Linked DNA regions of Homo sapiens: region 1 is linked to region 2. The links come from fine-mapping of genetic effects on gene expression. Tissue or cell type: whole blood. Region 2 holds a variant in brackets; the other region holds the start of a gene. All regions are shown on one strand. Distances are from middle to middle.

Region 1 (2,680 bases), 59 kb before region 2:
GCAGAAGAATCGCTTGAACCTGGGAGGTGGAGGTTGCAGTGAGCTGAGATCGTGCCACTGCACTCCAGCCTGGCTGACAGAGCAAGACTCTGTCTCAAAAAAACAAACAAACAAAAAAACAAAAAAAAATGGGCCAGGCGCAGTGGCTCACACCTGTTATCCCAGCACTTTGGGAGGCTGAGACGGGCGGATCATGAGATCAGGAGATCAAGAACATCCTGGCTAACACAGTGAAACCCCATCTCTACTAAAAATACAAAAAAATTAGCTGGGCGTGGTGGCGCGTGCCTGTAGTCCCAGCTACTCGGGAGGCTGAGGCAGGAGAATTGCTTGAACCCGGGAGGCGGAGGTTGCAGTGAGCCGAGATCAGGCCACTGAACTCCAGCCTGGGCAACAGAGCGAGACTCCGTCTCAAAAAAAAAAAGAAAGAAAGAAAGAACAAAGCTAGAGGACCAACACACAACCAGATGTCAAGTCTGACTATAAAGCTATAGTTAATAAGACAGCGTAGTTAGACAAACCCACTGAAGGACTAGAATAGGGTATGATATTCAGAAGTAGACTCCCATATATTTATATGGTTACCTATTTATTTATTTATTTATTTTTGAGACAGTCTCTGTCGCCCAGGCTGGAGTGCAGTGGTAGGATGTCGGCTCATTGCAAACTCTGCCTCCCAGGTTGAAGTGATTCTCCTGCCTCAGCCTCCCAAGTAGCTAGGATTACAGGCGCCCACACCACGCCCAGCTAATTTTTGTATTTTTAGTAGCGATGGGGTTTCACCATGTTGGCCAGGCTGGCCTCGAACTTCTGACCTCAAGTGATCTACCCACCTCGGCCTCCCAAAGTGCTGGGATTACAGGTGTGAGCCACCACGCCCGGCCGTGGTTGCCTATTTATATATAACAGAGGTAACGCGGCAGAGTAGCAATGAAAAAGACAAGATTTTTAATTGAATTGGATAGCCACATTAAAAAAAAAAGTAAATCCTGACTCCATAAATTTAACCCAGCTGATTTAAGACCCTGTTGTGGCCTATCAGCTGTAACCCTCCTTGCATTTTCCCACCTTTGAATAGCAAATTCCTTTCCTCACCCCAGGTCAGAAAGTCTGCTCAGCAGTAGCTGTGGATGGTAAGAAGACACGCTGGTAGGTCTCAGTGGCTCCCAGAAGCCGCACCCCCTCCACCGAACCTCACTCCTCATCTCCCACGCTCCAAAGCGAGGAGTCCTCAGAAAGCCAGTTTCCCTTATTTATTCTTCTTTCTTTCTTTCCTTTTTTTTTCTTGGATGTCCTACCAGTTTCCCTATCTTAAAGTCGCAGGTTCGGCTCAGAAACTCCAGTGTCCCTCAGCGTCTCGCCGGCACCCTCTGCCGGCGTGAGGTGGCGCTGCCTGGCCGCATCCTGGGGGAGCGTCCACATCCTCGGTCGACAAAAGGAGCGTCGACACTCTCGGACCTGGGAAAGTGACGGCCCAAACGCCAGGGAGGAGCCAGGACCTCGCCCTGAGCTAGCGGGAGGTAACGGCGGGGAGTCCTGGGGCGGAGACCGAGCGCTGGGGGCGTGGTCTCCAGCGGGACTGGGCCTCTAGCGGGAGTGGGGGCGGGGGCGGGGGCGGGGCCAGCCTGGGGGCCCAGACGTGGCGCAGCGACTCGGAGGTTCGCCTCCAGCTTGCGCATCATCTGCGGCCGGGTCCCGATGAGCCTCCTGTTGCCTCCGCTGGCGCTGCTGCTGCTTCTCGCGGCGCTTGTGGCCCCAGCCACAGCCGCCACTGCCTACCGGCCGGACTGGAACCGTCTGAGCGGCCTAACCCGCGCCCGGGTAGAGGTGAGTACGCCGGCCTCCAGCCCCGGCACTATCGTTCCCCAACCCTGCGGCCCCATGGGAGCACCGTCCGTCCCGGCCCCAAGACCACCTCGAACCGCGAGTCTCCCTGCTTTCCCCCTGGCGCCGGGACCATCCCTCCTGTTCCCTAGCCCCAGATGGCCCCAGCATCCACCGTGGAAGCCTGAGACACCGACTTTGGGGCCTGGAACTCCGAACCCTTCCCCAGCTCCCCCTACCCGGTCCGACAGCGGACACCCAGACACACTGACGCAGTCTCCTAACTCTTCTCGTGGCCTATGACTCCCAATCCTGTCCCAACTTCCCATCCCCCATCACTTCATGTTTTCCTGGAATTCCCCCCCGACCCGGTTCCAGGGCTGGAGGCTCCAGAAAGTCTCTTTTCCTTCTCCTGGGGGGAAAGAAGACTTTCTGGGTGCCTCCTCCCATATGCAGGATCCGGGGAAGGGGGCCAACTCGGAGGGGCAACCGAGTTGGGAACTTGGTTGCCAACATTTACTCTGCAGCAGCCTCCCATCCTCCCCCAACCAGGAAATTCCCGTTCGGAGTCCCTGTCTTGCTATGTGACTTTGACCATCACAGCCCGCCTCTGAGCTTTTTGTCAGCTCTGTCTGACAAAAGGGTGTAGAATGGTTGGGTGCCGGTGGTGCACGCCTGTAATCCCAGCACTTTGGGAGGCCAAGGCAGGAGGATTGCTTGAGCCCAGGAGTTCAAGACCAGCTTGGGGGACATAGTGAGACCCTGTCTCTAAGAAAAGGGCTGAGGGTAGGATGGAGGAGGGCTGGAGTGGGTGGTCCTGGGGTCTAGACTCCTGCTGGATGGTGGCATCTCCTCA
Region 2 (2,680 bases):
GCCAACATGGTGAAACCTCATCTCTACTAAAAATACAAAAATTAGCTGGGTGTGGTGGCGCACACCTGTAGTCGCAGCTACTCCGGAGGCTGAGGCAGGAGAATCACTTAAACCTGGGAGGTGGAGGTTGTACCAAGCGGAGATCGTGGAGACAGAGCAGGCCCCTGTCTCAAAAAAACAAAACAAAACAAAACCCCAAAAAACAAAAAAACCTGGGCAGAAATCAACTCAGAGATTCTGAGCCAGAACTACCTAATTAAGCCATTCCCAATACCTGACCCACAGAAAGTCTGAGATAGTAATCCCAGCCTCCCAAAATGCTGGGATTACAGGCATGAGCCATTGCACAAAGTCAGAATGTAGCAATTCTAAGATACCCTACAGCACATTTATTCTGTTATCTCTGTACTTCACAGATGGGAATCTAAGGCCCAAGGGTGGGGAAGGCACAGCCTAGAATAGTACAGGAGACCAGTGGCAGAGTGGAGATTAGAATCCAGAACTTTGAACTTTCCCTTTCTCCAGGCTGTGAGGAAGGCAGTGTGGATTCCCTTGGACCACCCAAACATTTCCTTTCAGGAGGAGGCGATTCTTGACCCAGTGCTGCTACCAGCTCCCCCTGGGTCAGGAAGCTCTGCCTGCCCAGGATTTCCTGTGTGTGGGAAAGAAACAGGATGAGTAGATAAATCCCCCAAGGCTTTTTTTCCCCAAGTGCGTGAGGTCCTCTCCCTGGTAAGTCTGCAGCAGTTCTAGCCAAGATGACCAACCCATCGACATGTATTTTGTGTGTTTATAAACAGTAATAAAAAGAATGATTGGCAAGGCACAGTGGCTCTCACCTGTGACCTCAGTATTTTGGAAGGCCAAGGTGGGCTGATCGCTTGAGCCCAGGAGTTTGAGACCAGTGTGGGCAACACAGTGAGACCCCATCTCTACAAAAAATTAGCCAGGTATGGTGGCACACGCCTGTAGTCCCAGGTACTTGAAAGGCCGAGATGGGAGGATTGCTTTAGCCCAGGAAGTTGAGGCTTCAGTGAGCCGAGATCACACCACTGCACTCCAGCCTGGACAACAGAGCGAGACCCTGTCTCAAAAAAAAAAAAAAAAAAAAAAGAACGATTGCATGTGCATGAAGCACAAGACAGGAGGTAGGGGAGAAGAGTCCACATCACCGTCCCTTGTCCCTGCCCTTGTGGAGCTGCCTTTGTTTGGGTCCTCCCAGAAGCAGGTCTTAAGAGAAGTATTTAAGTTCAAGTAATCTGTCTGGGAGGTGATCCCAGGGAATCCCCTGCAGGGGAGTGGGGAGGTGAGATGGGGAAAGGAAAGCAGCCAATAAATTCAATAAATGAATTGAAAGCACACTTCGATAGGCAACTGGAGTTCAACCCCACTAGGGAAAGCTCAGAGACAGTCATCCCAACCAAGGAGCAAGAGGCAGCTGGAGTATCTAGCCACCAACTTCTCAT[T/C]CTTCACTGGTTGAGGGATGCTTCTGGAACTCAGCCTTCCCGCTTGCCAGAGGACAGGCCCAAGTGTGCTCCTGAGGTCAGAACAACACAGTCAAGCAGTTACATTCACAGTAAGAAGCCTTTGATGGGTAGAGGTATCATCAGGGGCCTCTGGGCGGTATCTGCTCCAGAGGCTGACCACTAATGAGTTTTCCATCCACAGGAAAAGGCAGAAGGAGGCCCAGGAGACATGCCTTCCCCTCCCTGGGTGGGGTTATGGAGGCCGTGTGGAGTGCATAGTGGGCCTTTTGCCTGTTCAGGCCCCCATCACCCCTTTCTTCTCATTTTGAGGAATCACCTTACCCCACTGTGGTCCACATCGTCCTCTTCAACACTGTACTAGACCACATTTCCCAGCCTCCCTTGCTGTTAGGGGAGCCATGTGACTGATTCCAGCCAATGAAATGTGAGCAGAAGGGACATGTGCTGTTTTCAGACTTGGTCCATAAATACCAACCACTCACTTCCTTTCGCTTTTTCTCTCTTTTTAACTTTTTTGGAGACAGGGTCCCACTCTGTTACCCAGGCTGGAGTGCAGTGGCGTGATCATGGCTCACTGCAGCCTTCACCTCCTGGGCTCAAGTGATCATCCCAGGTTCAAGCAATCCTCCAGCCTCAGCCTCTTGAGTAGCTAGGACAACAGGTATACACCACCACACCTGGCTAATTTTTTTATTCTTTATTTTTTTTGTAGAGACAAGGTCCCACTATGTTTCTTAGGCTGGTCTCGAACTCCTGTGCTCCAGCAATCCTCCTGCCTTGGCCTTCCAAATAGCTGTGATTATAAGTGTGAGCCACTGTGCCTGTCTCGCTTTTTGGAATGTCTTCAATGGTGCTTTGGAGGAAGAAAACATCATGTGAATGACTACACAAATCACTATTGTCAGTTGGGAGTTAGCTCTGAGAGGAAAAGTTTAGGGTGTCTTGAGCACTTTGACTTGAGATCCAGCAGAGGAAGTCATGGGCAAAGGCCCTGAAGCAGGAAGGAGGAGTCTGAAGTGGGCCATGGTGACTGGAGGTTATGAACAAAGCTGAATGGCCTGAGAGGAAGGCACATGATCTTGATGTAAAACTCATAGGTGTGTGTATTAGTCTGTTTTCACGCTGCTGATAAAGACATACCAAGACTGGGAATAAAAAGAGGTTTAATTGGACTTACAGTTCCACATGGCTGG

The links. PIP is the estimated chance that this variant, and not a neighbour inherited with it, causes the effect.
Region 1: it holds the start of SELENOM, and the variant in region 2 is fine-mapped to the expression of SELENOM in whole blood (INTERVAL, PIP above 0.99).

Annotation. Positions count from the first base shown.
Region 1 is chr22:31,106,524-31,109,203 of GRCh38, reverse strand. It overlaps SELENOM (selenoprotein M), which reads left to right and starts at 1,636. Exons shown (of 5, transcript NM_080430.4): 1 at 1,636-1,827. The coding sequence starts at 1,699. It overlaps LOC105372995 (a long non-coding RNA gene), which reads left to right. Exons shown (of 3, transcript XR_938163.3): 2 at 1,101-1,133; 3 at 1,318-1,568. It overlaps LOC124905100 (a long non-coding RNA gene), which reads right to left and starts at 1,322. Exons shown (of 2, transcript XR_007068063.1): 1 at 1,096-1,322. RefSeq lists an enhancer at 2,180-2,680.
Region 2 is chr22:31,047,971-31,050,650 of GRCh38, reverse strand. No RefSeq gene overlaps it. Among named protein-coding and RNA genes, the nearest start is that of SMTN, 32 kb to the left of the region's middle. The variant T/C (reference allele first, on the strand shown) is at 1,467.